Homo sapiens: one gene and its partners. The protein of the gene in region 1 purifies or fractionates together with the protein of each later gene. This does not show direct contact. Each region holds a gene or a part of one and is shown in the gene's direction. Other genes may lie near its edges. The genes, in order: SLC26A3, ATP11B, TOM1L2, CACNA2D1, ABCB1 and LMTK2.

The links.
Region 2: the proteins of SLC26A3 (region 1) and ATP11B purify together in Homo sapiens (affinity purification with mass spectrometry; one large-scale study listed by BioGRID and IntAct). This does not show direct contact.
Region 3: the proteins of SLC26A3 (region 1) and TOM1L2 purify together in Homo sapiens (affinity purification with mass spectrometry; one large-scale study listed by BioGRID and IntAct). This does not show direct contact.
Region 4: the proteins of SLC26A3 (region 1) and CACNA2D1 purify together in Homo sapiens (affinity purification with mass spectrometry; one large-scale study listed by BioGRID and IntAct). This does not show direct contact.
Region 5: the proteins of SLC26A3 (region 1) and ABCB1 purify together in Homo sapiens (affinity purification with mass spectrometry; one large-scale study listed by BioGRID and IntAct). This does not show direct contact.
Region 6: the proteins of SLC26A3 (region 1) and LMTK2 purify together in Homo sapiens (affinity purification with mass spectrometry; one large-scale study listed by BioGRID and IntAct). This does not show direct contact.

Annotation. Positions count from the first base shown.
Region 1 is NC_000007.14:107,789,724-107,793,223, reverse strand, and holds part of SLC26A3 (chloride anion exchanger), read left to right. Parts: intron 1-1,283; coding exon 1,284-1,394; intron 1,395-1,988; coding exon 1,989-2,176; intron 2,177-3,500. UniProt on the Homo sapiens protein: Mediates chloride-bicarbonate exchange with a chloride bicarbonate stoichiometry of 2:1 in the intestinal epithelia. Plays a role in the chloride and bicarbonate homeostasis during sperm epididymal maturation and capacitation.
Region 2 is NC_000003.12:182,859,504-182,863,003, forward strand, and holds part of ATP11B (phospholipid-transporting ATPase IF), read left to right. Parts: intron 1-3,500. UniProt on the Homo sapiens protein: Catalytic component of a P4-ATPase flippase complex which catalyzes the hydrolysis of ATP coupled to the transport of aminophospholipids, phosphatidylserines (PS) and phosphatidylethanolamines (PE), from the outer to the inner leaflet of intracellular membranes.
Region 3 is NC_000017.11:17,962,401-17,965,900, reverse strand, and holds part of TOM1L2 (TOM1-like protein 2), read left to right. Parts: intron 1-3,500. UniProt on the Homo sapiens protein: Acts as a MYO6/Myosin VI adapter protein that targets myosin VI to endocytic structures. May also play a role in recruiting clathrin to endosomes. May regulate growth factor-induced mitogenic signaling.
Region 4 is NC_000007.14:81,945,944-81,948,360, reverse strand, and holds the end of CACNA2D1 (voltage-dependent calcium channel subunit alpha-2/delta-1 isoform 1 preproprotein), read left to right. Parts: 3' UTR 1-1,917; downstream 1,918-2,417. UniProt on the Homo sapiens protein: The alpha-2/delta subunit of voltage-dependent calcium channels regulates calcium current density and activation/inactivation kinetics of the calcium channel. Plays an important role in excitation-contraction coupling.
Region 5 is NC_000007.14:87,594,385-87,597,884, reverse strand, and holds part of ABCB1 (ATP-dependent translocase ABCB1), read left to right. Parts: intron 1-2,070; coding exon 2,071-2,119; intron 2,120-3,500. UniProt on the Homo sapiens protein: Translocates drugs and phospholipids across the membrane. Catalyzes the flop of phospholipids from the cytoplasmic to the exoplasmic leaflet of the apical membrane.
Region 6 is NC_000007.14:98,193,862-98,197,361, forward strand, and holds part of LMTK2 (serine/threonine-protein kinase LMTK2 precursor), read left to right. Parts: coding exon 1-711; intron 712-3,500. UniProt on the Homo sapiens protein: Phosphorylates PPP1C, phosphorylase b and CFTR.

The DNA of each region.
Region 1 (3,500 bases):
TTGCTGGATCATAGGGTAACTCTATATTTAATCATTTGTGGAACTGCTAACTTATTTTCTAAAGTAGCTACACCATTTTACATTTCCACTAGCAGTGTATGAGGGTTCAGATTTCTCCATATCATCAACACTTGTTATTGTCCATCTTTTTTCTTTTAGCTATCCCAGTGAGTGTGAAGTGGTATCTCATTGTGGTTTGCATTTGCATTTCTCTAATGACTAACAATATTGAATATTTTTTCCAGGTGTTTATTGGCCATTTGTATATCTTTTGAAACATGTCTATTCAAAGTTTTTATCCATTTTTAAATTGGGTTATTTGTCTTTTTGTTGTGGAGTTGCAAGTGTTGTTTCTATATTCTGGATACCAGACCCTTGTCAGATATACAATTTGCAGATAACTTTTTTATTCTGTGAATTATTGGTTAACTTTCTTGATAGTATCCTTTGAAGTACACGTTTTTAAATTGTGATTAAGTCCAGTCTATCTGTATTTTTCATTGGGTGCTTATGCCAGGGGTCCCCAGTCCCTGGGCCACAGACCAGTACAGGTCCGTGGCCTGTTAAGAACTGGGCCACACAGCAGGAGGTGAGTGGCAGGTGAGCAAATGAAGCCTCACCTGTATTTACAGCCGCTCCTTATTGCTCTCTTTACCTCCTGAGCTCCACCTCCTGTTAGATCAGCGACAACATTATATTCTCATAGGAGTGCAAACCCTATCGTGAACTGTGCACGCAAGGGATCTAGGTTGCATGCTCCTTATGAGAATCTAATGCCTAATGATCTGTCACGGTCTCCCAACACCCCCAGAGGGAACCATCTAGTTGCAGGAAAACAAGCTCAGGGCTCCCACTGATTCTACATTATGGTGAATTGTATAATTATTTCATTAAATATTACAATGTAATAATAATAGAAATAAAGTGCACAAAAAATGTAATACACTTGAGTCATCCCAAAACCATCTCCCCTTCCCTAGTCAGTGGAAAAATTACCTTCCACAAAACCAGTCTCTGGTGCCAAAAAGGTTGGGGACTGCTGGCTTATGCCATAGGTGTCATTTCTAAGAAACCATTGACAAATCCAGGTCACAAAGATTTATACCTATGCTTTCTTCTAAAAGTTTTATAGTTTTAGTTCTTACATTTACATCTTTAATACATTTTGAATTAATGAGGTAACTTATTTTTAGGATCCAATTCTAAATACCATAAGAACCAAATGAGAATGTCTTTGATTCCTCTTGCACAGAGTAAGGGCTCTGCTGCTTGTGTGTTTACAGGTTTAGCATTTGCTCTGCTGGTCGACATTCCCCCAGTCTATGGGTTGTATGCATCCTTTTTCCCAGCCATAATCTACCTTTTCTTCGGCACTTCCAGACACATATCCGTGGGTAAGTCAGTTACTGAGCTGATTAATGCTCACATTGTTTTTTCCTTATGAATTTTATTAGCCATACCTTCTATCAATTCCAAATTTCACATAATCCAGGAGAAGAGTCATGGTCTCCTGTGAGAATTAGGACCAGGGTTTGAGATGGAGGGCAGGGTCACAGATGGCAGCCATTTTATTTATTTATTTATTTATTTATTTATTTTTATTTATTTTTTGAGACGGAGTTTTGCTCTTGTGGCCCAGGTTGGAGTGCAGTGGCACGATCTCAGCTCACTGCAACCTCCACCTCCCAGGTTCAAGCGATTCTCCTGCCTCAGCCTCCCAAGTAGCTGGGATTACAGGCATGCACCATCACGCCTGACTAATTTTTGTATTGTTGGTAGAGACGAGGCTTCTCCATGTTGGTCAGGCTGGTCTCAAACTCCCGACCTCAGGTGATCCACCCGCCTCGGCCTCCCAAAGTGCTGGGATTACAGGCGTGAGCCACCACGCCCAGCCTTGCCAGTCATTTTATATGGTCTTATTCTGTGGTTGAAAGACAATGTGCTTTAGAGAGGCATATACTGACCACGATTCACCCACTGTTAATTAGGTCCGTTTCCGATTCTGAGTATGATGGTGGGACTAGCAGTTTCAGGAGCAGTTTCAAAAGCAGTCCCAGATCGCAATGCAACTACTTTGGGATTGCCTAACAACTCGAATAATTCTTCACTACTGGATGACGAGAGGGTGAGGGTGGCGGCGGCGGCATCAGTCACAGTGCTTTCTGGAATCATCCAGGTGAGCACCTTCTCATGTAACTTGCCCACCTCAATCTGTTCATCTTGACTGTTACACATCTCTCTATTTTTCCTCCCCCCTGCCACTCCTCCCCATCTTCCCTTTGGTTTGTCTCTCCCTCATGGCCCATAGGAAATACTGTACGAAGGGTCACTCACCACAACCAGAGGGAGAGGAGTGGGTCAACAGTACAAAAACGAATGAATGTGGGTCTAGACAGAAGGAAGAAGGGGAATGGAGAGGCACAAACAGTGACAAGCGAAATGCTTCAACATATATCTGGGAATTGATAGAGTCAAGAAACAGCATATCTGGGAATTGATAGAGTCAAGAAACATAACTGTATACAAGAAATCGTCATACTGGTGGCTTTGGAATTTTTTTCTTTAATTCTTCAGCAACTATAATCTAGTTGGAAGGGATGGGGGCTTTGAACTGTTCATGTCAATTTTGGGGAAAACTGACGAGGATTATGGTGGAGCCTAAAGTCTCACTTCCAAGCCGTATGCTGACACTCCTGCTGAATACTGAAAATGTCATGGACTTTTTGAGATGTTGCCTAAGTTTATGGATAATGATATTATTGGTTAAGACCATTTCTTAAAGAAAGGAAAAGTCAGTTTCTACAAGGACATAAGCATGCGTCTTATTGACAATTTGGTTAGTTATTTCTAATACATTTCTGAACTTAGTATAGAAATGGAACCCAACTGGGCTTTGGGCAGCCACAGCTCTGGCTGCGTTCTGGAGATGTGAGCAGAAAGACAGGCCAAGTATCCAAGGGAAGGAGAATCCATCCGATTCACTCGATTGCAAAACAATGATGCTTTAGGGGGGAATTAACCATCCTTTTCCCCCAGCTAGAACCAAGCACTTCTGATGTCCAATATGCAGTTATGTATTTCTTAAGCAAGTTGAGCAACTTTGAGGAAATAGGATAGACACTCGCTCATGCGTGCTCCAGCAGCTAGAAAGTATAACTTAAAATTACATCAGCAAATTTATGAGGGCTGATGCTAGGTAAGATTCTACTAGAAAAGGCCTATGAGTCTTCCAAAGACAGCACACTTAAAAATAAATTAAGTGCAAATAAGCCTGTTACTTCTTGGGGGCAAACTAGACTTATATCCTATGTGAATACCATGTGACGTTCCACCTGGATGATGCGGTGGAAGGGAAGGAGAGAGAGGAGCCCTGGGTGGGAGGCGTCCCAGGAGGCAGGGACATTTGCTTCTTCAAGGCATGTACATACAGGTTGAGCCTTTACGTTTTGTGTAATATTATTTCAGTTGCGGATCCTTGAGTTTGCTGAGGTATACTCCTA
Region 2 (3,500 bases), on another chromosome or scaffold:
TAAACCCTAAGTTGTTTCTTTTGTTATTTACCACTATATTTCTATTTGATATTCTTTCTTATTCTTAAGTTTTAGACATTATCTACTATGGAATATAAAGACATAACTCTTACACTACTCTTCCCAGACACATATCCCTTTGCTTCTCCATAGCCCCCTAATACTATCATATCACAATTTGGGATTTAATAAATATTTTTATTAACATTATTATGATTGTTTTAATATTGTTCACTAATTCCCGGTTCTATAGATGTGTCCTGTAATACCATAATTACATTTCCCTTCTTATATATTTTGTTTTCCCAAGAGTTATTTGCTCTGTTTTTTCATTTCCTCAATTTCCATGTGCCACAAACAAGTCTCTGATAATATGTGCAGCATCTGTCTATATATTCAAACATACCAGGTAATCTAGAAGTTCCTTTCTTCCTCCCTGCCTTCCTTTTTTTTTTTTTTGGTAGCAATGTTTTTGGAGGCTTCCACCTTTCTGCTCCGATTGGATTATTCTTTACTCTTTCTGGGCTTGCTTCTCAGCTGTCACTCTGGACTTCACTTTACCATCACCCTGGAAATTCCTTTGCCTCTCTCCTGTTTTGGATCTCCTCTTTCTTGCATCCCATGTCTTCCTACCTGTGGCTTATTCTCTTTTGGTGCTGTACATCTTCTAATAACTTCCTGAGAAAGGATGTATCAGAGGATAATGTTTTGAAACTTGGCATGTCTGAAAATATCTTTATTCTCTTTTCACACTTGATTAATAATTTAGCTGTTATTGCATTGCAGATTGAAATCTTCAGAAATTTGAAGGGATTTTATTGTTTTCTAGCCTCCAGTGTTGCTGTTAGAGAAATCCAGTTCCATTCTGATTCCCAATTCTTTATGTATGATCTGTTGTTTTATCTCTGGAAGCTTTAGGATCTCCTTATGCAATAGTTCTGAAATTCATGATGGTGTACCTTGGTGTTCGTTTTTCCTTTTTTATTTTTTGTTTCATGGGCAATTAACTCTGTGAGTCTTTTCATCCTGGAAATACATGTCTTTCAATTCTAGGAAATTTTCTTGTACTATTGTTTTGATAACATGTCTTTCTATGTTTCTCTTGTTTTGAAACTTACTATTTGCATGTCCTACCACTTATATTGACCCTTTAATTCTCTGACTTCAATTTTCAGTTTTTATTTATTTGTTTTTATATTCTACTTTCTGGTAGAATGCCTCTGATTTATCTTTTCAGTATCTTTTGATTTATTTCTGCTATAATATTTTTAATTTCTAATATTTTGGTATTCTCTGGATAGTTTTTTAAAATTGCCTCTTATCCCATTTCTTGAACATAATCTATTCTTTTACCTCCCCGAGGATATTAATGACAGTCAATTGAAGTCTTCTTCTGCTCCCTCTATTATCTTTGCTTGTAGTGCATTTTCCAGAACAGCCAGTTCTGCTATAATGTGATATATGCGTTCCTAAAATTCACTGCATAATGCAAAATTGCCTAGTAAAAGCCACAGGGTTTATGAGAGAATGGGATTAGGGGTACAACACAAAAACAATAATACTTTTTTTTTTTTTTTTTGAGACGGAGTTTTGCTCTTGTTGCCCAGGCTGGAGTGCAATGGCGCAATCTTGGCTCACTGCAACCTCCGCCTCCTGGGTTCAAGCAATTCTTCTACCTCAGCCTCCCGAGTAGCTGGGATTACAGGCATGTGCCACCACGCCCGGCTAATTTTGTATTTTTAGTAGAAACGTGGTTTCTCCATATTGGTCAGGCTGGTCTCAAACTCCCGACCTCAGGTGATCCTCCCACCTTGGCCTCCCAAAGTGCTGGGATTACAGGTGTGAGCCACTGTGCCCAGCCTAATAATACATTTTTTAAAAGATAGGAACCTAATAAAAACAGCACTTGCCAAATTGTTCATGAATACACAAATGCTTCAATAAATACGGCACTTACCTGGACCTGAAGTTTGCCTGTGGAAGATAGGCATCAGAAGGGTTGCAACTTAAGTGTTACTGTGAAGTGTGAAAGGGAAGGTTATCTGAAATCAGAGGGAAGGTTGTAATACCAGATGTGGATGAGTGTGACTCATAACACATGGTGAACTGAGATAGCTAGTAACTGAGTTTTGGGCAAAATTTGCACAAAGTTTTGATTATGCTCAAATTGTCTCTTATTGTATCAGTTGCATTGGGATAAATTTGTGTTTTCAAGACAGTGTTACAACAGAACTGATTATAATTTGTTTCAGATTCTACCTTTTATGTAAGGAGTGATCCTCAAATGGATGCTAATCTTTGGCTATCATTTCAAATTTAAAAGTACTCTACCCAGGAGGCTGAGGTGAGAGGATGACTTGAGCCCAGGAAATCGAGGCTGCAGTGAACCCTGGTCACACCACTGCACTCCAGCCTGGGCAACAGAGTGAGACCCTGTCTCAAAAAAAAAAAAAAATGAAAGGCTGGGCTCAGTGGCTCATGCCTGTAATCCCAGCACTTTGGGAGGCCAAGGTGGGTAGATCACTTGAGCCCAGGAGTTCAAGACCAGCCTGGAGAACATGGCAAAACCCCATCTCTACAAAAAAATACAAAAACAAAAAATACAAATACTAGCTGGAATACAAAAATTAGCTGGGCGCAGTGGTGTGTGCCTGTGGTCCCAGCTACCTGGGAGGCTAAGGTAGGAGAATCACTTGAGCCCAGGAGATGGAGGTTGCAGTGAGCCCAGATTGTGCCATTGCACTCCAACCTGGGTGACAAGAGTGAAACCCTGTCTAAAAAAAAAAAACAAAAAAAACCTCAGGCACTAATATGCTTATCAGAAGCTATTGATTCAGTGGGCCACACCTTAAGGTAATGAGCTGACAGGCCCAGCAGGTAATATTTCTGCTGCTTATGGCTGCTAGAGCTGGCCATTGGATACCTGTTTTTAGTGCACTGCCTCCCTTCTGTGTTCAGCTGTCTGCGGAGACCAGATTCTGTCCAGTTCAGCCTACTAGGGGAATACACCTTCCAGCTGTTGCTCCAATAAATGAGGGGCGTTCTGAAGTTTGCAACTTTTAAAGAGATTTCAGAATTTAAACTACTCCTGATAGCTTGTATTTTCAGCCTCATCCTGTACTCCCACATTCAGGGGTAGCTGGTAGGTCTACTTCCTGAGCGTTTCTGAGAATGGGTTTTCTCATCACTTGGGTTTCAGATTCTAAGTTCTGGTACATCAGTTACCACTCATTCATCTCCTTTTCCATCTTCCAAACTTGTGTCAATCTTCCCTCTCATGCTGACTTTTTTACCATTATTTTTGTTCTTTTTCTGTTTTTTTTTTTATCCTCATGGTGAAGTTTTAAGAGAACCAGAGATAATTAAATGTGCTCAACCTGTCATGTTTAACCACAAGTTGATCCATTTATTTATTTATTTATTTATTTTTGAGACAGAGTCTCACTCTGTCTCCCAGGCTGGAGTGCAGTGGTGCAATCTCGGCTCACTGCAAGCTCCGC
Region 3 (3,500 bases), on another chromosome or scaffold:
GATCCACCCACCTTGGCCACCCAAAGTGCTGGGATTACAGGTGTGAGCCACCATGCCCGGCCCCGTTTTTGGGGTTTTAAAAAAAGTTTAATGTTGTATTCCTATGTGCCAGAGACTGAAGTGGGCACTTTATACATCTTGCAGTCATTCGATCCTCACAACAATGCTGTGAGGAAGGTACTGTGATTATCTCCATTTTCAGATGGGGACATTAAGACAATGAGAAAGTATGGAACCTACCTAAGGTCACACAGCTAGCAGTGAGGGAGCTATAGTCTGAATGCAGCATTCTGGCTCCAGAGCTGGTATCCTGTCACGCTGTGCTGCCCTCAGCAAGAGTAAAGTGAGGAGGAACACTGTAGGAGGGAAGGAAGAACTCAGGAAAACTCTGAGGAGGTGGTGTCTGCTGAGCAGGGCTTTGATGAATGGGGAGGATTTGGTTTGTGTAGAAATGGAAAAGGATGTTTGGTTTCTTGGCAGAGACAACTTGAGCAAATGCTGGATGTTAAGAGGTAGGCGGGGGTGATGGGATTTATTCTGTGTGCCTAGCAAAGGGGAGTGATAGGGGGTGAGACTGGGAAGGGAGGATAAGGCCTGATTGTGTGGAGGGCTTGCTTCATATGTTGGCTAAGTAGTTTGAACTATATTTTAGAGGTACTGGGGAGGCATGAAAGACTTCTAGGGAGGGGAATAGCATGGAAGCATGAATATCATTACAGAGGTAGGGAGATTTCTCCTTAGCAGTCACCAGAAGATCATTCTCTCTACCATGAAAGCCCGCTTCTGTGCAGAATTGGGGAGGGAAGGTGGGGGAAGGAGGGGGGATGTCAGCTGTGGTCAAGGGTAGGGACACTGTCTATGAAGCCCCCTCAGAAACAGAAAGGTGCCAAGGCAGGTTGATGGAGCATTGAGAAGAAGTCTAGTCTAGAGCATTTGTCCTTAATTGCCTGGACAGGTCTTAAAACCCCTGACATTGAAAGTCACGTGGGGCGTCAGCCTGCTCCTCCTCCTGCTCTGTTTATCATATGCAATGACAGGGCTGACCTATTCCCAGGGCTTTTCTAGAGGAATGCCACTGCTTAGGAGTGGGCTATCGGAATATCTAAAATTCTCATATAATTGTGCTTTTTATTTATTTATTTTTTTTGAGACAGGGTCTTGCTTTGTCGCCCAGGCTGGAATGCAGTGGCAGGATCGTAGTTAAAGCCTCAACCTACTGGGCTCAAGTGATCCTCCCGCTTCAGCCTCCCAAAGTGCTGGGATTATAGGTTTCAGCCACTGTGCCCAGCCTTTCATTGTGCTTTTTACAAAACGATGTATAACCGATAGAAAATATGAAAGATATAGAAAAAATGCAAAGGAGAAAAAAATCTCCACAATGTGCGTCCTCACAAATTTGTTGAGATGCTTATTTCACATAATGGAATACTTTTGTATTTCACTCTTCATCTTCTCATGCCTTGAAGAGGCGACATTGTAGAACAACTTTTAGCATATTTCTGTATAATCTACATTTATTTATTTATTTACTTGGGATATTAGGAAAGGAAAACGGTGTAAATACATTGCCCAGAGGAGCATCAGTTAGGGGTTGTTGCTCTTGACCTAGCAGATAAATCACCCAGAAATGTTGCGCTAACCTAGTAGTCTGAGAAGATATAAATAACATTCAGGCTTTTCCTGCTGACCCGGCTTGTTGAGGTTAAAAGAGGCGACTTTTAAAACCAGTCTCAGACTTGGTTACATATGTTATTGCTCCCTCCAACCTTCTTGATTTAGGAGATTCTCTGCTTTTCTCCATTCAGTCATCAAGCCTGATGCCCATCAGCCCTCACCTCTTCCTACAGGCAGCCTTCCTAGACCACCCTGTTTATGGTGATGAATCTCTTCTCTGAGCTCACAGTGCTTGCTATCCATATCATTCATTTGGCTCTTCTCTTATCTATAAAACAGAAAATATTACTTGTCCTCCAGGTTTTTGTGACGATTAAATGAGATAATGTGCTTAAAATCCCTAGCACGGTGTCCTGCAATCAACTAATATAGACTTCTTGATTCCTTCCCTCCACTGTTACTGTTGTTATTTATCTTGTGTTATTTATCATGTGTTTATTGCCATACCTTCTGAATAAGGCTGGAGGCTCCTCTACTTTCTGTTTCCTTGTGACCTTCACAGCACATGGTAGAGTATATTCTTCATAGTTATTCACTCTTTTTGTCACTGGTATTTAGCATCTTTGAAAGCTAACATTACTAGCCATCATTTCCTGGCCCCTCACCATGTGCCAGGCACCTTGCTGAGTGCTGTGCATACTTATCTCATTTAAAAATTTTTTTCTCTGGAAGCACTGTTATCTTCATCTTACAGGTGAAGAAATAGAGACTTAAAGGGGTTCAGAAACTTGCCCAAGGTTTCCTGGCTCAAGTAGGCGGAGCGGTCCTCTCCAGCCAGGGGCTCTAGCTCCAGCGTTTTTCTTTGTTCATGTTGCCTTTTAGACATCAAGCATGGTCTGTTTCCATTTGGACAAGAAGGAGCCTAAACTGATTTCAAATAGGAATTCCAGAAAGATAGCATAGTTCCACCAATAGGAATGTGGATTCCCATTGCTCTCTCTTTGTTCTCTTCCAGCACTTAGCACTCTTTGTTCTAGATTGGAGTCAGTCCCATCTTTGCTTCTCGATGCGACTGCTTTTGTATGAGTCCAGTAACTGTGCTAAAACTCAGTTTCCCAATCTGTAAACTGTGGTGGTGAAGGGAGTACAAGAACACTTGCACCATCACATCTTACAGGGGTCAAGTGAGTATGTAAAAGCAAAATGTGTTGTTATGTTTTACATCATTTAGACTAAATGTTCCATGAGGGCACCTGTTTCTATTTATTCTTTAAAAAAAAAACCTGATAAAATATATATAACAAAATTTACATTTTTTTTTTTTTTGAGACGGAGTCTCACTCTGTTGCCCAGGCTGGAGTGCAGTGGCACGACCTCGGCTCATTGCAACCTCTGCCTCCCAGGTTCAAGCGATTCTCCTGCCTCAGCCTCCCAAGTAGCTGGGACTACAGGCACGCGCCACCACGCCCAGCTAAATTTTTTGCAATTTTAGTAGAGATAGGGTTTCACCATGTTGGCCAGGTTGGTCTCGATCTCTTGACCTTGTGATTCCACCCACCTCAGCCTCCCAAAGTGCTGAGATTACAGGCGTGAGCCACCACACCAGGCCCAAAATTTACAATTTTAACTGGTTTTAAGTGTGCAGTTCAATGGCATTAAATATATTCACATTGGGCCAGTCGCGGTGGCTCATGCCTTTAATCCTAGCACTTTGGGAGGCCGAGGCGGGTGGATTGCCTGAGCTCAGGAGTTCGAGACCAGCCTGCGCAACACGGTGAAACCCTGTCTCTACTAAAATACAAAAAAATTAGCCGGGCATGGCAGTGTGCGCCTGTAGTCCCAGGTACTCGGGAGGCTGAAGCAGGAGAATTGCTAGAGGAGGAGGT
Region 4 (2,417 bases), about 26 Mb from region 1:
TCATAACTGGTATTGACATTTTAGAAAACACCAAAGTGATTTAAAATATATGTGGGGAAAAAAACTTCTCACTCTAGTAACAATGTTTTAATCATGTTGTTTGTTAAATATTTAAAAGTTATTGTTCAATTTTTGCTAGACTATCTTAAATCATGATAGTGTTGGGAAGGGGGTATCAAAATATAAAATTGTTAGTTTGTGTATATAAACAATGCACATTAAAACAATTGAATTGCTTCCAGCATACAACAAACTACCTTAAAATTATGTTCAAAATCTATTAAATATATTTTCATGGCTAATGTCGAGTATATGTTTTCATCAATTACATTGTTATTGTATTAATCGCGGTTAAACTTGGCATCTCTTGGCAGGATCCTATTTAATTTCTGTTGCCATCAAAATATATTTATATGCATGAGTTTTGCTATAAACCTTTATTTTCTGCTATAAAGTTATATATTATGACAACCATAAATGCAATTACAAATTGGGTAAGAACAAGCTGAATAAAAGTTGTTCCCATGACTAATATTAGTCTTCATGCTTTTAGCATATTTTTTAAGACAGTAACACTCATCCCATCAAATTATTACATTACATTTAGTATTTTTCTGAGTTACATTGACAAGAACTTAAATTATAGCCTGTTATTAATATTGATTTCCAACGACTGAACAGTACAACAGATCAATAAAAAAGTTTATACACTGCTTTAACTAATTTTTGTTATACTCATGTGGCTTAGTGTAGTTAGTCACTAAAACAGAGTTCAAGTGAGCTTGGCAATGGTGTTGAGTAACAAGAAAGAATTTTGCATTAATGATTTCTTTTTATTTTCCTCATTTAAACAACCAGCATTACTGCCAAACACCAACCGTGGTCCATATTTGTAACAGGTTTTTAACATGACATAGTTAGCAAGTTTGATTGAAGAGATTTTTAGGTCCTGGGCCTATAAGATTTTAGTATGATCTTTTTTCATGTTTCTAATGCTTGAGGTGTTACTGCTTAACTTGGGAAAAAAAAAAACAAAAAACAGTGTTCCTGCCATTTGTAAGTTTTCCTATAATATTCCTTTTATTAACTTTAAAACTGGACTTATCGGGTTCAAATAGGCAGTATCCCTTTTAAGTGACCTTTGCAACCCAAGTGTTACTTGCTTATTTGATGCTCTCTTGTATTTTAAATCTCATTTAAATCTTTGTCTGTGACCAACAAAGCTTAAGATTTTGTCTTCATTTAAAACTCTGAATCTATTCCATTGATCATGTTAGACGTTCAAATGTTTAATGGTATAGTCTGACCTAGTGAAACAAAATGGATGTTGTTACTTTTTTTAAAGAATAGAATGAAATAACTATTTCACTTGCCCAAAATTTTAAATATTTTTTCATCTAAACTTGTATTGTTTCCCATAGCAGAATGTCAATATTCACAGTACATTTCTGTAAAGAGCAAACCAATATAATGTTTTGAGTGTTGAAAAAAATTCCAGATTTTTGAAGAATTAGACAACTCTTCATCTACCTTATTTCTAGTTCACACAGTTATCTCAAATTCCACTGAAACTAATGGGATACTGTCTTGTGTAGATGCCAGTTGAGTTTATAATGTGACCTAGTAAAGCTGTCTTTTTTGTTGTGTTGTATGAGTGTCGGATCATGCTTTTAGGAATACTTTTATTAAAATGGTGTGCATTCATGCAAAAGGCCAACTGGCTTTTGTGAACAATAGATCTTTTCTCCCCTTTATTTTGTTCTCTTGACACTTTTGTGAAAATTACCTAGCCTGATAAAAACATTTTGTAAAAATTTGTATAATACTGTTATAAAATATTTATAATCCCAGAAAATGTTGTGTTAAATCTTGTGCAAAAACAGTATATTCAGAATAAAAGTTTATCATTTAAAGTCACCACGCGGTTTGGGTTTTCTGCTTTTTAAAAGATCCAGTTGGAAGAGACAGATGGCTCTGTCATAAATAATTTTAAGAGAGAATTCTGGATTGTGGAAATAAAAGTTGGGATTAAATAGTGCTTTTACAATTACAAACCTCAACTCACACAAATACAGTCAATCCTTGAACAACATATGTTTGAACCACATGGATATACTTATATGTGGATTTTTTTCAACCAAATGCAGATTGAAAATACAGTATTTGCAAGATGGAAAACCCACATATACCAGGTGCCTACTTTCTGTATACTCAGATTCTGCGGGGCCACTTTCCAGACTTGACTTGGGTATGCATTGATTTTGATACACGTGGGCATCCTGAAACTGATCCCCCCCACGCACAGAGGGATGACTGTCAATTCACTCGCGATGCCTTTACTTAAGTCTAACCTTCTAACATGCCTTCTCCATCAAGGCACTTAGGAATGTACTTCATCAGACTTTGGACTTCTTTTA
Region 5 (3,500 bases), about 20 Mb from region 1:
ACAATCTAAAAGTTCAACAAGGAAAAAATCCTATGGAAAACATTCTTGGGAGATTTGAATGTGCATTAGATATTAGCCAATATCAGAATTGTAATCACTTTTCTTAGATGTGATAATGGTAGGAGAACATGTAATTGCAATTGAAAATTTTTGTAACAAAAATGTTCATATAAACCATGAAAAAGACTCCATAGAGTGGAGGGTAGGTATTCCACTTTTTGTTTTTAACTTTGTATTTTTGAAAACTTGATAGCTTAAAGAATTATGTACTTATGATACAAACATTTAGGTAGATTTAACTAAGAAATATTGAGGGTATGTGAAGAGAAACAGTAAAGAAAATTGTATGATCTTTCACATATTTCTATTATTGGTTCTATCATGGCCTATAGACTTTTTTTTTCAAATTAGAGATTATATTTTAAAGTAGTTCTTATTAAATTGTGTTCATTGCCATTGATTTAAATCTATTTTAACATGGGATTGTAAAGAAGCATATGGCTTTGGTAATAGATAATGCTGGGATAATAGTCCTATTTGGAATATGACTATTAGCAAAGATTCTTTATTAAAATGATGTTTGATGAATGACTTGTCTTTCTAAGCACTGTTTTTTGTGCTAATGGGGATAAGTAAGTTATCTAGTAGGGGTGAGAGTTTGTGTGAAAGTGCATTTTAATGTGATGCGATGCAGTATCTCAGAAATCTGAGGTTGCACCTTATAGTTTGGTGGTCAGGGAACAGACTTGGCATTTAAATATTGGCTTAGTTATAGCTGTGAACCTTGGACAAGTTAACTCTTCTCACTCTTCTACGTCTCTAAAAGAACAAAAATGTGTCTTCCTCATAGAATTGTTTATGAATTGTGTGTGGGAAGTGCTTACTTAGCCAGTGCCTGGAACATTATAACTTCTCCAGAGTAGCAGCTGTTTTAGAGAACAAAAAAATAAATAAAAGGCTTAGAGCTAAAACTCAACTATTTATGGCTATTTTTCTCCTTTCATCCTGGTTCCAGGGATACTGAAACCATGCCTTTACTGGGAATTGGGTGGGACCAAACCTGAAGAGTTGTGTTTGTGTATTTTATGTCTGTCTAACATTACTCCAAAGCCAAATGGGTAAACTCTGGATTTTTTTCTTTAGAAGTCTCCTCACCTCTTTTGACCTCACTTAGTGTAAAGAACAAAGACAAAGATGAATTTACCTTATGAACTTAAAAACCGTGTAAAAAATAACACAAATCTTTTCTAAAATAGTTTTTCTTTTATACCTACAAAAATACAGATGAGGCAGATTTGTTACGGTTGGTTTGCTTTCACATCCTAGGTAGCAGTTACACAGAGTAGAAAATGGGCTACAGAGTTAGATTCATTTGTATCTGGGCTCAAAATAATAGTTGACCTTATGCCTGAGGAGAACTTTTTGACAATTTATAGAACATCATTTCTGACCATAGCTTTCTAGCGTGCATTTATTTCATAATGGTCCATTTAGGACTCCAGACATTTTTTTCACAATTAGATTTGCTTATAAGGAGTAATTTAATTTTCTTCTGAGGCTAGTTATGCCCAGCATCTAATTGCCACTTCTCTTCACTAGAAAGGGAAGGATTAAGAATAATATCTGGGTAGTGGATGGATAAAATGTCTACTGCCATCATTAATCAAATGACAATTAAGGGGATTCATAATTAAGGGGAAGCATGAATGATTTTCTAATTAGAATAAAAACAGGGAACTCTTTTCAGTATGTATATTTTTCTAATTGCAAAGGGTGTATGTATGTATTCATCATAGCAAATCAGGAAATATCAAAGGCACAAGGAAGAAAATATTTTTAGAGAGATTCCAGCACTCAGTGATAACCACGTATGTAGATTTCTAAGATATATGTAAACATATTTAAACATTATAAATGGGGTCATACTATTATCATCCTGTTTTTTAACTGTATAATATAGACATATTTCTTCTTCCTATTAGTCATTAAATATACATTCTATGTTAATTTGGGTAATTTAAAAAATATGTACTTTTTAAAGTTTTATGTAATTCCATTGCTGTTTTGCAGTGAAAAAGATAAGAAGGAAAAGAAACCAACTGTCAGTGTATTTTCAATGGTGAGTTTTGAATTTATTAACTATTCAAAATACTTCGGAAATTTGACATCTCCTTACATGGAAAAGAGATATTTCATCTGATGTAAGATTTTCGTATAGGGTATGTTAATGGAGATGCAAAATAAATTGGTTTGATTTAGCTTATTTTCAGGAGAATGCTGATCATAACTTGCTATCTATATTACTAATCTACAGCCACCATTCCTGACTTAGATTTCAATTCTTCTAATGAATTATGTTGCCAGTGATCCATTACCTACACAAGCACCTCTCCCATCTGCATAGAGGAAACCAATCACATAGAATGCTGTCTTTAATGGCTCTGAAATTTGGCAGGTTTTTTAGGTCAAAGTCAGTTGCTATCAATAAAAGTTAGCAATGGATTATTTATTACTATGCAAATTTTAGGTCATTTAGGTTAGTCCATTGCAAATTTTAGTTCAAAATCCATTACTAACAATAAAAGGTAGCAATGGATTATTTATTACTATGATTTCAAATATGTCATATGCCATTATTCCCCTGTGTTAAACAGATGAAAATCTAGAATTCGAAAACCTTATTGTAACTCTTTATTTCATTTTCTGGTTGCACAGTGGTTTTTTTAGAAGCTTTTCTTTAATCACACTTGGAATCAGACATGTATCATATATGTGTGGTTGGTTGATGACCTCAGTGCTGTGATCTTGGCTCACTGCAACCTCTGCCTAGTTAATGACCTCTTATTTACCTGGATTCTTACTTCCTTTTTTCTAAGAGTACAAATTTAGGTGAACTGTTAGGTGAAAGATTCCAGAGATTAGAACCTGGAAGACTACTAAACCAATTAAGTCCAACAGCACATGCTTTATAATTCAGTCATAACACAGCAATTTTTTTAAGGTAAGGGAGTGGATAGATTGTCTTGCAAAATGGATTTTAATAAATTGACTATAAAAATAGTTGTAGGTAGGGAAAAAACAGTCATGTGACTTTTACACTGAGGACTCTATGGTTCCCTTATGTGATCTTCGTTTCTCTGTGCTACCATTGCTCTTGCCATGACTCCTGCTTTTATTCTATCTCTACGCCCTTTGGAATTTTGGTGAGATGAGACTATGTACTTGAGTCATTCTTAGGCTACTTGAGTAACCAAGTGACAGTTTTCATTGTTACTTTCTTGTATGGAAAGAAGCGTTTAGGTTAAAGTTGTATTTATCCCCAGGATTTCAGTGCTGTCACTTTGAGACTTTCAGTTTTTATTATTTGTAGTTAAATTTTTTTAAACCTTAGGAGTCTTATATTTTAGAAAATTTAACAGACCTACTATATAGAGGCAATGTTATCAATAATTCATTTTAAGGCACAAAAGAATAAAAATATGGAGCTTTAATATGAGGTA
Region 6 (3,500 bases), 9.6 Mb from region 1:
GAGCAGCCCCTACCCGAGCCAGTCCTCCCCGAGCAAAGTCCTGCTGCCCAGGATAGCTGCCTGGAAGCCAGAAAGAGCCAGCCAGATGAAAGTTGTCTGTCTGCTTTGCACAACTCCAGTGACCTGGAATTAAGAGCCACGCCGGAGCCAGCACAGACTGGTGTTCCCCAGCAGGTGCATCCCACGGAAGACGAGGCCAGCAGTCCCTGGAGTGTGCTGAATGCAGAACTTAGCAGCGGCGATGACTTCGAGACACAGGACGATCGCCCCTGCACCCTCGCTTCCACGGGGACCAACACGAACGAACTCCTTGCCTACACCAATTCTGCGCTGGACAAGTCCCTGTCCAGCCACTCCGAGGGCCCGAAGTTGAAGGAGCCGGACATCGAAGGGAAGTACCTGGGGAAACTCGGGGTGTCAGGGATGCTCGACCTCTCAGAGGACGGGATGGATGCAGACGAGGAGGACGAAAACAGCGACGACTCGGACGAGGACCTGCGGGCCTTCAACCTGCATAGCCTCAGCTCCGAGTCGGAGGACGAGACCGAGCACCCCGTGCCCATCATCCTCAGCAACGAGGACGGAAGGCACCTGCGGAGTCTGTTGAAGCCCACAGCGGCCAATGCCCCCGACCCACTGCCCGAGGACTGGAAGAAGGAAAAGAAGGCAGTCACGTTTTTCGATGATGTCACAGTCTACCTGTTTGACCAGGTATCTGTTCCCTCTAAATCATTTTCTATACACATCCATATAAGGATTCCAAAATGTGCTAGGAAATTGAGTGTGGTCTGTTTTCTAGTTGCCATTTTGAGGCAGCAGATTGTGATTACTCACAAAAAGTAATTTGGGGTTGGTTAGAGTTCTAAGAATATGCAGAAATGTCATTTGCTCAGGGAGTTCGTATTAAATTAAGAGAAAGAGACCCGAATGCTCTTCCTGGGTCTTCTAATGGAGTCTTCCTGAATTAGTCACCCTTTACACACCAAATTTTTACTGTTTTACTTTTTTATTTTTCTTTTGAGACAGCCTTGCTCTGTGGCCCAGGCTGGAATGCAGTGGTACAGTTGCAGCTCACTGCAGCCTTGAACTCCTGGGCTCAAGTGATCCTCCCACCTTCCATAATAGCTGGGCCCACAGGTTCATGCCACCATGGCTGGCTAAGGTTTTGGTGTTTTTTTTGTTTTGTTTTGTTTTTAATTTTTGTAGACACACGGTCTTGCTATGTTGCCTAGGCTGCTCTCAAACTCCTGGGCTCAAGCCATCCTCCCACCTCAGCCTCTCAAAGTTTTGGGATTACAGGCATGAGCCACTGCGCTTGGCCTCCAATTTTTAGAGCCTGACAATTGGCAGTAGGACCCACCACTTGGGTACAAGCCTGGAACCATGGCTGGCGTGCAGCCCTGGAGACAGCTCAGGAGAGGGGCCAACCAGAAGCCCTGCGGTGGGTGTCTGGAGGGTGTGACACACAGCAGGAGCGTCTGTGGTCCTTCTGCTCTGTCCCCTGACCTGTCCTCTTTCCCTGCTTTGGAGCAGGCAGCTTAGTGTGCACTGCTGAGTGGGCATGGATTTAGGCTCCTTTAAAAATGTAACAGCGGATAATTCAAGCATGCTTTAAAAAAAAAAAAAAAGTTCTTTTCATACTAGTCTTTGTAGCCCTTGAATTTGCTGCTTGCATCAGCTGGATTGTTGGGAGAGCTCAGTGGTGGGACATGAAAATGGGGTCCCCTCACCTTCTAGAAGGCGCAGGAGTCCTCGCCGTCTCCTTCACATTGCTTGCCCTCCCTTTTGCTCCATTCTGGGAACCCAGACCTTGGTCTCAGCCCCTGCGTGGCACCATCCCTCATGGGTCCGTGGCTATGGCGGGTCCAAGCACTGTTCCACCTCCTCCCCCAGGAGCTGCGTCTGTTGAACGTCACTTTATGCCTTGTTCCTCTGTGTTCTGTTCACTTTGGTTTTTATGATGTTTCTTTAAAAATCGTTAAATCACCCGCATTTGAGCTATAGCATATATGGCGGGGAAGTGGATGTTTAAAAAATGAAAAGTAAGGCCAGGCGCGGTGGCTTATGCCTGTAATCCCAGCACTTTGGGAGGCCAAGGTGGGCGGATCACCTGACGTCGGGAATTCAAGACCAGCCTGGGCAACATGGCGAAACCCCATCTCTACTAAAAATATAAAAATTAGCCAGTCACGGTAGGCAAGACTGCAGGCCCAGCTACTTGGGAGGCTGAGGCATGAGAATTGCTTGAACCTGGGAGGCAGAGGTTGCAGTGAGCCAAGATTGCACCACTGCACTCCAGCCTGGGTGACAGAGTGAGACCTGTCTCAGAAAAAAAAAAAAAAAAGCAGCCTCCTGAGCTCAGCCTGACCTCTTGAACCTGATTCTGCGAGGGGCCAGGAGGCCGTCTTTCTCTTTTCATTCCCCAGGTGGTTCCTAGGCAGATCTCGAACTCAGGAGCCTCTGAGCTCAGGGAGCCTGAGAAAACACGCTGCCGTTTTCTAGTAAGAGTGGAAGGGAGAAGGGATCACCTGGCCCCTCGGGTTTGTGTTTTGTTTTCAATGCATCCACATAGCCCTTTCTCCACCGTCTCTGTGAACTTGGATTATCGCTGCATTTCTCCATGGATGGGGTAATGTATAGGTGGGACGGAACTGTCAACTGTGCTCGGTGAGCAGTGCGGTTAGGAGCTAGGGAGCACGCTGTCCCCACTTCCTGAAAGCCTGGGGGTAGCTGGAGTAGTGAGAGGGACGCAGTCCCAGTGGAAGCAGCCTGTGGAGAAAACTCCCTGGGGCCGCAGAGTATGGGCCCCTTGCACAAGTCTTTGTGGAGGATGTTATGTTTTTCTGACTTTAGAAGACAGAATTGCAAAAGATGAAGATCTGTGACAAGGGCACTCTAGTTATGGGATGGAAGGTACAGAGATCAAATACCAGACATGCTTAATGGACGCGAGGCTTTGACAAGGAAGTTAGTGTCAAGGAGAAAGTCGGAAGGTGGGTCAGGGCCAGAAGAAAATGAGGAAGATCTTTCTGATGATCTGAAATTCGTTTGCTTATGCGTCTCATGCAGCATGCCTTGAAGCGACAGCCACCAAGCGTTCAGGCCGAGGACTGAGGGTTTCCTCCCACTCCTGCTTTCTTTTTTAATGAGCTGGTTTTGAAGTTGTGTAGTTTTTAAGCAGTTGAAGTATCTTGGCTCCAAACTTTTAACTGAGTGTTCATGGGATTGGGCAGCAATTGTTTCTTGGTTATATTACTATTTGTCAGTTCAGCAAATACTTAACCAGCACTTACCGTGTAAAGTAGTAAAGGCTGGTGAACAGTCTGTGGGTGCCAGCACCTTTATTATACATTGAGTCTTGTTTTGCTTCCCCATGTGGGGGTGGTTGTCACCATCTTCATGGAGAGGACCCTGAGGCTCAGAGTAGGTAAACTTTGCACAGGGTCTGGCCCCAGTGAGTAGCAGTGCTAGGGCTTGACCCAAGTCTCCTGGACCGAGCA